Homo sapiens: one gene and its partners. The protein of the gene in region 2 interacts with the protein of the main gene of each other region in a biochemical or structural test. Each region holds a gene or a part of one and is shown on either strand. Other genes may lie near its edges.

Region 1 (3,748 bases), on a different chromosome or scaffold from region 2:
CTACAATGATAAGCTAATACTGATTTATTAAGTAGTCTATAGTTTACACAAGGAGTCATTTTTATTTATTTATTTTTTTTTGAGAGGGAGTCTCGCTCTGTCACCCAGGCTGGAGTGTAATGGCGCAATCTCGGCTCACTGCAATCTCCACCTCCCAGGTTCAAGCGATTCTCCTGCCTCAGCCTCCCCAGTAGCTGGGACTACAGGCGCGCGCCACCACAGGCTCACGCCTGTAATCCCAGCACTTTGGGAGGCCAAGGTGGGCGGATCACCTAAGGTTGAAAGTCAGAGAGCAGCCTAACCAACGTGGAGAAACCTCGTCTCTACTAAAAATACAAAATTAGCCGGGTGTGGTGGCAGGCGCCTGTAATCCCAGCTACTTGGGAGGCTGAGGCAGGAGAATCGCTTAAATCCGAGAGACGGAGGCTGCAGTGGGCCAAGATCGCATAACTGCACTCCAGCCCAGGCAACAAAAGTGAAACTCTGGCTCATTAAAAAACAAAAACAAAAATAAAAACAAAAAACTTGCCATTTAGGCCGGACATGGTGGTTCATGCCTGTAATTTCAGCACTTTGGAAGGCCGAGGCGGGTGGATCACCTGAGGTCAGGAGTTCGAAACCAGCCTGACCAACATGGAGAAACCCTATCTCTACTAAAAATACAAAATTAGCCAGGTGTGGTGGCAAGCGCCTGTAATGCCAGCTACTTGGGAGAATGAGGCAAAAGAATCCCTTGAACCCAGGGGGCGGAGGTTGCAGTGAGCCAAGGTCGGGCCATTGCACTCCAGCCTGGGCAACGAGAGCGAAACTCCCGTCTCAAAAAAAAAAAAAAAAACAAAACTTGCCATTTAATCATTTTTAAAAGCACAATTTAGTTAGTTTAGTACTAAAACGTTGTGCAAACATCACCACTATCCACTTCCAGAACTTCTTCACCACAAACAGAAATTCTGTACCCATGAAACAGTAACTTCCACTCTCCACTTTCAGTGCTGGTAATCTCAATTCTGTGCCTGAGGGGGAATCATACAGTATGTCTTTTTTGTGTCTTATTTCACTCAACATAATGTGTTCAATGTGCTCGTTTATACTGTATAATGTGTTCGTTTATATTGCAGCATGTATCAGAATTTCATTCCTTTCTAAAGATGAACAATGGTCCATTCATTATATGTATATACCACAGCTTGCCTTTCATCCACATGTTGATAGACATCTGGATTTTGAATAATGCTGCGATGAACATTTGTGAACAAGTATCTGAGTCTCTGCTGTCAATTTTTGGGGGTATAAACCTAGAACTGAGGAACGACTACCAATTTCCATAGCTGCTGCACCACCCTACTTTCCCACCAGCAATGCACCCGAGCTTCAATTTCTCCACATCCCCAACACTCATAATTTCCCTTTTTTTTAATAGCCACCCTAACAGGTGTGAGGTGGTATCTCATTGTGGTTTTCATCTGCATTTCCTTAATGGTTAGTGATGTTGAGCATCACTGCACGTGCTTATTGGCCATTTGTCTCTCTTCTCTGGAGAAATATCTATTCAAATTCCTTGCCCATTCTTGAACTGGGTTGCTTTTTGTTGGTCAGTTGCATCTCTTCTTGTATTCTAGACATTAACTCTTTATCAGGTTTACAAATGTCCTCTCCCACTTTGGAGGCTGTATAGCGGATTTTTAAACAGTAATAATGACAGAAGAGGAGGCAGTCTAGAACTAAAACAGAAAGAATGGCTTTCGTCTTGTGCCGCCCTCAACTTCCCAATGGTTTCAAACGCAATGTTTCCAGCCTCGGCAGCGACTGACACCGGGCCTCCCCGCTCCCTGCACAAAGACGCACTCCCGCCCCGGCCTGTGGGGGCGGGCCCTTCCCTCGGGCCGTGTGGGAAGCGAGGCAGCGCAGGCCCCCTTCACTCGGACCCGCGGCTTCCCGGGACCGTCCCCGCCAGGTCGGCGGCCGACACGGGGCTCGGGGATGCAGGCCCCAACCACGCCCCTCCCCCGCTCGCTCTCGCTCCTCACCGGTCCGGCCGCGGGCGGCGTCCAGTGGGCGATGGACCGCGCGGAGGGCCCGGCTCGCGGTCGCGGGCGGCTCCGCGAGGCCCTGCAGCGCAGCGGCCTCCCGAATGGCGACTGGATGCAGGAGCCGGGATCCGGGTGCGCGAGCGTGCGCGCTCCCGCGGGACGGGCGGGGGCTGACGGGAAGCAAGTTTGGCGCCGCGCGCCCTCCCGCGCGGGCCAATCAGATCGCCGATCGCGTGGCGCGGCTGTGCCAAAAGTGCGTGGGCAAAACTAGCGGCTCGCGCGGGCCTTCGGAAGGGCTGCGTGCCCGCCCCGCCCCGGAAGTGCCGCACGTGCCCACTCCGCCTCCGCTTCCCGCGCGCGCCCGGGCGCGGCTCCGGGAGGGTTCCGCCGCGTCTGGCCTGTGGCCTCCGGCCAGGCCCTTGGAACGGCCCCGGCCTGCCGCCGCCGTGCGGATATCTCTTCCTTTTCTTGCTGTTTTGATTGTTGTGTGAATGAATTTATTAGGAAAAAAAGAGCTAGACCTGCCCCATACATTCTCAGGGATATTACTGGCATAATACCTATGACAAAAGTACAAGACAAAGTTGTTGGATGACAGTAAATATTCCTTTTCTCATCACCCCGCCTCCACTGAAAGTCCCGATTCCCAGAAGTTATCTTCTTCGTTTTTTGTTTTCAGTTTTATGAATGTTACCACCACAATTCTAATTAAAATGCATGCACCTCTAATGCTGATGCCATCAGTCTGTATGCTTTGAAAGACTGTAAAATTAGCTCACACTGCTCTCTACCTTTGTACCCTTCTGAAGTTTTGCTTGTTGTGAATTTCATTTTTGTTTTTGTGGTGAAAATGAACTATAGAATGGCCGGGCGCGGTGGCTCACGCTTGTAATCCCAGCACTTTGAGAGGCCTAGGCAGGTGAATCATCTGAGGTCAGGAGTTCGAGACCAGCCTGTCCAACCTGGTGAAACCTTGTCTCTGCTAAAAATACAATATTAGCCAGGCGTGGTGGCGGGCGCGTGTAACCCCAGCTACTAGGGAGGCTGAGGCAGGAGAATCCCATAGAACCGGGGAGGCGGAGGTTACAGCGAGATCGCGCCACTGCACTCCAGCCTGGGGGAGAGAGTGAGACTCTGTCTCAAAAAAATAAAAATAAAATCCATAGAATTTACCGTCTTAACTATCTTTACGTGTACAGCTCAGTGGTGGTAAGTATATTCATAACACCACCATCCATCTCTGTACCTCTTTCATCTTGAAAAACAAACTATGCATTACATGTTAACTCTCGGTTCCCCTCTACCTTCTACTTTCTGGCAGTCACCATCTTACTTCCTGTGTCTCTGAGTCTGACTACTCATAAGAGTGGAATCATACAGTATTTGTCTTGTGACTGACTTATTTTACTTAGCAGAACATCCTCAAGGTTCATCCATGTTGTAGCACATTGTGGAATTTCCTTCCTTTTTAACACTGAATACTATCCCATTGTATGGATATGCCACATTTTGCTTATCCACTCACCTGTTGATGGACACTTGGCTTGCTTCCCTATTCAAGATATTGTGAATAATGCTTTGACATTTTCAAAGAACCAATTTTTGGTTTCATTGATTTTCTCTATCGTTTTCTATTTTCTATTTCATTTATCTTGGCTTTAATCTTTATTATTTCCTTCTTTTTGCCAGCTTTGGATTTAGTTTTTCTTTTTATAGTT
Region 2 (3,648 bases):
CTTGTTTAGCACCTGTCTGCTCTCACCTAGAATGTTAGCTCTCTAAGGGCAGGGACTGTATCCTGCCACATTGGCCCACGTCTGGAGAGCCTGTGGCACATGGTGGATACACCATGGATTTGTTGAATGAAGGCGCCCCCTGCAAGCCAGGCCCTCACCCTGGCTTCTGGCTGTGGGCCCAGGGGTGTCCTGGGAGCACAACCCTAGCTGAATTCCTGCCTGCCCTCCCCTCCAGGCCGAGTGTACTACTTCAACCACATCACTAACGCCAGCCAGTGGGAGCGGCCCAGCGGCAACAGCAGCAGTGGTGGCAAAAACGGGCAGGGGGAGCCTGCCAGGGTCCGCTGCTCGCACCTGCTGGTGAAGCACAGCCAGTCACGGCGGCCCTCGTCCTGGCGGCAGGAGAAGATCACCCGGACCAAGGAGGAGGCCCTGGAGCTGATCAACGGTGAGCAGGGCGAGGGCAGGGGCTTGGGAGGGGGTCTTCTCCCAGGTGAGCCTTTGTAGAAGTCACATCAGACCCTTCACCCCAGCTTGCTCAGCTGCCAGGCGTGGTGTTGGCCAACACAAAAACGCCAGTGCATGACCTGACCCTGACCTTCACAGCAGCCATTCTCTTTCTTTTCCATCTGGCATTTGAGGGTGAGCCAGGTAGGGGCAGAGGACCCAGCCTGGGGGCTGGCAGACATGGGTTCAGGTAGTAGCTGTGCCTCTGTGAACTCTGTGACCTTTGGGAGGGGACTCGTGTCACCTCCCCTAGACTCAGCTTTCTCTGTAAAATGGGCATCCTCTAAGGACCATTGTGAAGGTTCAAGGGAATAAGGCAATGGATTTTGCACAGTAGGCCCTCAGTCTGTGGGAAGTGTTGTCAATAGTAATATCATCCACTAGGGGCCTGAGTCATAAACATAGGTGGATCCAGAGAGAGCAGTCAGGAAGGTAGTGAGTGCATGCAGGGTGCGGTGGCTCACGCCTGTAATCCCAGCACTTTGGGAGGCCTTGGAGGGCAGATCACCTGAGGTCAGGAGTTCAAGATTAGCCTGGGCAGTATGGTGAAACTCCATCTCTACTAAAAATACAAAGATTAGCCAGATGTGTTGACGCATGCCTGTAATCCCAGCTACTCGGGAGGCTGAGGCAGGGAGGCAGAGGTTGCAGTGAGCCGAGATCGCACCACTCCACTCCAGCCTGGGCAGCAAAGTGAGGCACCATCTCAAAAAAAAAAAAAAAAAAGAGGTAGTGAGTGCCAGTAGATAGTGAGTTAATTCTGACCTAAGGGAGGAAGCTATTCCCTGCTCTGTTCTGTGTTTCCTCTGCAGTCTGGCACCAAGGTGGCAAACTTTAAAGGCCAGATGGTAAATATTTTAGGTTTTGTGGGCCATGCAGTCTCTATCAGCTCTGCTTTGTAACTGGATAGCACTCATAACTAATATGTAAGCAAGCACATGGTCATGGCTGTGTGCCAAGAAAACTTTACTATTTACAAAATCTGGGAGGATTTGGCCTGCAGGCCATCATTTGCAGAGCCCTGTCTAAAGCTGTCCAGTTTGGCTGCCACTCCCACCCTGTGCGGGAGGATCACTTGAGCCCAGGAGTTTGAGACCAGCTTGGGCAACATAGCAAAACCCCGTCTCTAAAAAAATAAAAAAATTAGCTGGACATGGTGGTGCACGCCTGTAGTGTCAGCTACTTAGAAGACTGAGGTGGGAGGATCCTTTGAGCCCAGGAGGCAGAGGTTGTAATGAGCCGAGATCACACTACCGCACTCCAGCCTGGGTGACAGAGCAAGACCCTGTCTCAAAAATAAATAAGATAATATCAAAAATTGGTTTCTCAATTGCACTGGTCATACTTTAGCTGGTGGCTGCCATCTTTGACAGCGGGAATATAAAACATTTACATTCTTGGCCGGGCGCGGTGGCTCACGTCTGTAATTCCAGCACTTTGGGAGGCCAAGGTGGGTGGATCACGAAGTCAGGAGATCGAGACCATCCTGGCTAACACGGTGAAACCCTGTCTTTACTGAAAATCCAAAAAAATTAGTCTGGCATGGTGGCGGGCACCTGTAGTCCCAGCTACTCGGGAGATAGGCAGGAGAATGGCATGAACCCGGGAGGTGGAGCTTGCAGTGAGCTGAGATCGTGCCACTGCACTCCAGCCTCGGCAACAGAGCGAGACTCCGTCTCAAAAAAACAAAAACAAAAACAAAAAAAAACACTTTTCCATTCTTGCAGTAAGTTGTGTCTGATGCCTTTCTCAGAGTCCCCAAACCTGGGCTGTCCCTACTCCAAACAACCCATCTCTCAACCATGCCCAGACAGCCTGGGTTGCTATGCAGCTCTGCCACGTCCTGGCTATGTGCTCTTGAGCAAGTTACTTAACATCTCTGGGCTTCAATCTTTTTCTCCTTCTTCTTTTGAGACAGGGTCTTGCTCTGTCACCCAGGCTGGAGTGCAGTGTTCATAGCTCACTGCAGCCTCAACCTCCTTGGGATCAGGTGATCCTCCCACCTCAGCCTCCCAAGTAGCTGGGACTGCAGGCTCATAACACCACACCTGGCTGATTTTTGTATTTTTAGTAGAGACAGGACTTCACCATGTTGCCTAGGATGGTCTCAAACTCCTGGCCTCAAGTGATCCTTCCACCTCAGCCTCCCGAAGTGTTGGGATGACAAGCATGAACCACCGCCCCCAGCTGTCAGTCTTTTTCATTTATAAAATTAGTATTAGAATAATAAGACCCACTTCACAGGGTAGTTGTGAGGACTCCTGGCTAATACAGTAAAGCGGGAGTAACAGCTCCTGGCATCGGTAAATGTTCTGTCATTGTTAGTGGTCACTGTCATTGCTGTTGTTGGTTGTGGTAGCACAGGGCCCAGCACAGAGTGTACACTCGGTCAGTATTGGCTGTTGTTTTACTCTCTCATCACTTGGTCCAGTTGGCCTGTAGGATGTTATTACATATGCACACCCCCAACATGGCATCTAGGACAGTAAGTGCCACCCGTTAGTCTTATATGTAAGCATGGCAGAGAGAAGCCGAGTTCTTGCACAGAATCTTGAAGGCTGATTGAAGAGCCAGCCTCCTGACCTCTGAGGGCAGGGACTGGATCTCTCTCTTTCCCCTGTATTCCCATCCTGCCACACAAAGCCTGGCCCAGAGTCAGCCCTCACAGCCTTGTTTCATGAGCCAGTAGGAAGCAAGAAGGATTCCTGGCACAGGACGGGGCAGAAGTAAAGGCCTAGGACTAGGATGTAGCCAGAACTCTGGGGAAGGCTTTGCAGGGAGCTAGGGGGTGATGAGACCCTTCACGGGCAGGTCCCAGCCAGGTTGAGGAGGGTCCTTGTCAGGTGAGGAGGTTTGGTTCTTTCCTGGAGGCAGCAGGACATATGTGGCCATGTGGGACCAGGAGAGGAACCCACAGTGCTCTGCTTTCAGCAGAGATCTGTGAAGCTAGAATGTCAAGGGCCAGGGAAGTGGAAGGCCCAGAACCTTCAGGGGTTCTGGTTGCCCCAGAGCAAGAAGAAGAAGTGGAGGGAGAAGCCAGGAGAGAATTGCAAGATGACCCTTCAGGTCCTCCCAGCTCTAGTGGTCTCTGTTCTGAGGCTTCCGGACCCTATAAGAGTGAGCAGGAGGGTGCAGGCATTT
Region 3 (3,648 bases), on a different chromosome or scaffold from region 2:
GAGTCCTAGATGACCACAGGCTATAGCTAAAAAATCACTGGCCCTTAAGAATCCTGGTCTCACCATGTGTATTCTGCTGAGGGCTTATTCTAGCCAATGTCATGGCTTCTGGGGCTGCTCAGTGGACTTAGGGATTGTCTTCAGGGGCCCCAGAGTTAGAGTGAGTGTCCAGAGGATGCCTGACCTTTGTTCTGACCCTGAGATGATTTCTCTCATGTCTGGGTTGTGGCTGGGAGACTGGTGCCAAATCCTACCTTGTGCTTACAGGTATACCTTGTTAGTGGGCAAACCACCTTTTGAGACTTCTTGCCTAAAAGAGACCTACCTCCGGATCAAGAAGAATGAATACAGTATTCCCAAGGTGACTAATGATGCTTTAAGTTTACATTTATTTTGTTTTCCCCAGAAGCTGTTTATGGAGCCCAGCAATATCCTAGGACCAGAAATAGGTCTATCCCACCTCTAAGGTAGCCACAGAGCTTGAGAGGGCCTGTGTCTGAAATTGCATACAGAACTTGACATGTATGTGCACATAAGCATTTTTTCTAGGGGGAGAGAGTTGGCAGATTCTCAAGAGATTGGGTAACCCAAAAGTTGTGTAAAAAGCAAAAAACAAAGGAGGTAGGAAGGAGTAGGAGGCAAAAGTGCTTAATCTTTAGAAATGGTTTATCTTAATTCAAATGGATTCTGCCACTTAGCGAGATCACATTGGGCAAATGGCCTGCATCTTTTTTTTTTTTTTTTTTATTTGAGGTGGAGTTTTGCTCTTGTTGCCCAGTGCAGTGGCATGATCTTGACTCACTGCAACCTCCACCTCCCAGGTTCAAGCGATTCTCCTGCCTCAGCCTCCCAAGTAGCTGGGATTACAGGCACCCACCACCTCGCCTGGCTTTTTTTTTTTTTTTTTGTATTTTTAGTAGAGACGGGGTTTCACCATGTTGGCCAGGCTGGTCTCGAACTCCTGACCTCAGGTGATCCACCCGCCTTGGCCTCCCAAAGTGCTGGGATTACAGGCGTGAGCCACCATACCCAGCCTGGCCTGCATCTTCTGAACCATAGTTTCCATATATAAAGTGGAGTTCCTGCCTTGGAGCACCTCACAGAGTGCCTTGCATGTGGTGAGTGCTCTCAGAATTATGAATCACTGTGAATCCCAGGGCTTCCTAATGGCATAGTTGTGTGCATTTTCTTTTTTTTTTTTTTTTTTTTTTTGAGATGGAGTCTCGCTCTGTCGCCCAGGCTGGAATGCAGTGGTACAATCTCGGCTCACTGCAAGCTCTGCCTCCCAGGTTCATGGCATTCTCCCGCCTCAGCCTCCTGAGTAGCTGGAACTACAGGCACCAGCCACCATGCCCGGCTTCTTTTTTCTGTATTTGTGGTAGAGACAGGGTTTGACCGTGTTAGCCAGGATGGTCTCGATCTCCTGACCTTGTGATCCACCTGCTTCGGACTCCCTAAGTGCTGAGATTACAGGCGTGAGCCACCGCGCCCGGCCATGGTGTGCATTTTCACAACCACCAACAGAAATACATTTAAAGGAATAGCTGGTTCCTGCAGAAGCCTAGCACACAGCCAGTTTGAAGTGTAGTGTCCTTGTGTGAAGCCAGGAGGCCTGTCACCATAAGGACAGACATAGTAAATCCATCACAAAGTGTCAGTTCACTGTCAGAGACAGCATGGAATCAAGCCAGCTAGACAAGGCCTTCACCCTCTCTGTGCCTCACTTTCCTCCTCTGTGAAAAAGGGATGATAATAGATCCCCACCCCTTAGATGAGTTGGTGAGGGCTAAGTGAGCTAAACACAGGAGTGCTTAGAATGCTTTCCTGGCACATAGTGAGTGCTAGGAAAGTGAGTTGGTGTTCGGCCACAGTCCATTGACCCTTCTGTCAATGGTGCTCAGTAAAGCTGACAGTGGAGAACTTGGCATTGAACCAAGTTGTGAACCACTGACCTGTGGTGTATTTGAGACTGGGGGCTGCATGTGGGCTGGGGACCTGCAGCTCCTTTGAGGCCGTACTGTACTCCAGGTCCCCTTCACATTCTGCTTATGGCTGTCCCTCTCTCTGCCCCAGCACATCAACCCCGTGGCCGCCTCCCTCATCCAGAAGATGCTTCAGACAGATCCCACTGCCCGCCCAACCATTAACGAGCTGCTTAATGACGAGTTCTTTACTTCTGGCTATATCCCTGCCCGTCTCCCCATCACCTGCCTGACCATTCCACCAAGGTTTTCGATTGCTCCCAGCAGCCTGGACCCCAGCAACCGGAAGCCCCTCACAGTCCTCAATAAAGGTACAACAAGGGTCTGGGTAAGAGAGCAGACCCCCCAGAGAAAGCCCAGGTTGTAGGGGTGTGTGCAGCTTAGTCCCTGGCCCTGAGAGCTCAGGTGTGGAGTAGGACAGGCCTCTGTCCTTCAATCCGTGGTTCCAATGCCCATCTGCTTCTCGGCCCTGCCAGGAAAGACTGACCTTACCATGGCTGGATAAACGTACCATGCCCAAGAAGAAGAAAATGGATTGAATGCCAAGCCTGAAAAATTCTTTCAAATCACTTTAATTAATTTAATTTTTTGGAGACAGGGTCTCTCCTCTATTTTCCAGGTTGGAGTGCAGAGGCACAATCACAGCTCACTGCAGCTTTCAACTCTAGGGCTCAATTGATCCTCCCATCTCAGCCTCCCAAGTAGCTGGGACTGTCAGGCATGCACCACCATGCCTGGCTGACTTTTCTAATTTTTGTAGAGACAGTGTTTTGCCATGTTGCCCAGGCTGGTCTTGGAACTCCTGGGCTCAAGCGATCCTTTCACCTCCACCAAAGTGTTGGGATGACAGGCATGAGCTGCTACATCTGGCCTTTAAAAAAATTTCTAACACTTTTTCATGATTCATTGAAAAACATAAAAATTTCCTTTTTTTTGTGGCGTGATCCCGGCTCACTGCAAGCTCTGCCTCCCGGGTTCACGCCGTTCTCCTGCCTCAGCCTCCTGAGTAGCTGGGACTACAGGCGCCCACCACCATGCCCGGCTGTTTTTTTGTATCTTTTAGTAGAGACGGGGTTTCACTGTGTTAGCCAGGATGGTCTCAATCTCCTGACCTCGTGATCCGCCTGCCTCGGCCTCCCAAAGGGCTGAGATTACAGGCGTGAACCACCAGGCCCGGCCTTTTTTTTTTTTTTTTTTTTTTTTTTTTTTTTTTTTTTTTTTGAGACAGGGTCTGGCTCTGTCTCCTAGGCTGGAGGGGAGTGGTATGATCTCGATTTCACTAAGGATACATAGTTTTAAAAAGTCACTTGAAATACTTTTTTTCTCTGTGGATATATCACCAATTTGATGTACAACTTCAGTTCATTTTTCAGTTTTCAATTTTTAGGTATTGGTTTTTCTTAAACTTCATTTTGGAATAATTTTAGGCTTATACAGAAAAGTTGCAACAACAACAAAAAACTCCCCAGAGTTCCTACATACCTTGCAGCAATTATTACAGTGGAATTTTTTTTGAGACAGGTCTCAGGACTTGCTGTCACCCAGGCTGGAATGCAGTGGCTCACTCATAGCTTACTGCAGCCCCAACATCCTGGGCTCAAACAGTCCCCCTGCCTTACCCTCCAGAGTAGCTAGGACTACAGGCATGTGCCACCATACCCAGCTA

The links.
Region 1: the proteins of PIN1 (region 2) and CHAMP1 form a complex in vitro, tested with the Homo sapiens proteins (one study listed by BioGRID).
Region 3: the proteins of PIN1 (region 2) and PLK1 form a complex in vitro, tested with the Homo sapiens proteins (3 studies listed by BioGRID, with this or other methods).

Annotation. Positions count from the first base shown.
Region 1 is NC_000013.11:114,312,923-114,316,670, reverse strand, and holds the start of CHAMP1 (chromosome alignment-maintaining phosphoprotein 1), read right to left. Parts: upstream 2,169-3,748; 5' UTR 2,028-2,168; intron 1-2,027. UniProt on the Homo sapiens protein: Required for proper alignment of chromosomes at metaphase and their accurate segregation during mitosis. Involved in the maintenance of spindle microtubules attachment to the kinetochore during sister chromatid biorientation.
Region 2 is NC_000019.10:9,838,201-9,841,848, forward strand, and holds part of PIN1 (peptidyl-prolyl cis-trans isomerase NIMA-interacting 1), read left to right. Parts: intron 1-235; coding exon 236-448; intron 449-3,648. UniProt on the Homo sapiens protein: Peptidyl-prolyl cis/trans isomerase (PPIase) that binds to and isomerizes specific phosphorylated Ser/Thr-Pro (pSer/Thr-Pro) motifs.
Region 3 is NC_000016.10:23,681,797-23,685,444, forward strand, and holds part of PLK1 (serine/threonine-protein kinase PLK1), read left to right. Parts: intron 1-267; coding exon 268-361; intron 362-2,073; coding exon 2,074-2,293; intron 2,294-3,648. UniProt on the Homo sapiens protein: Serine/threonine-protein kinase that performs several important functions throughout M phase of the cell cycle, including the regulation of centrosome maturation and spindle assembly, the removal of cohesins from chromosome arms, the inactivation of anaphase-promoting complex/cyclosome (APC/C) inhibitors, and the regulation of mitotic exit and cytokinesis.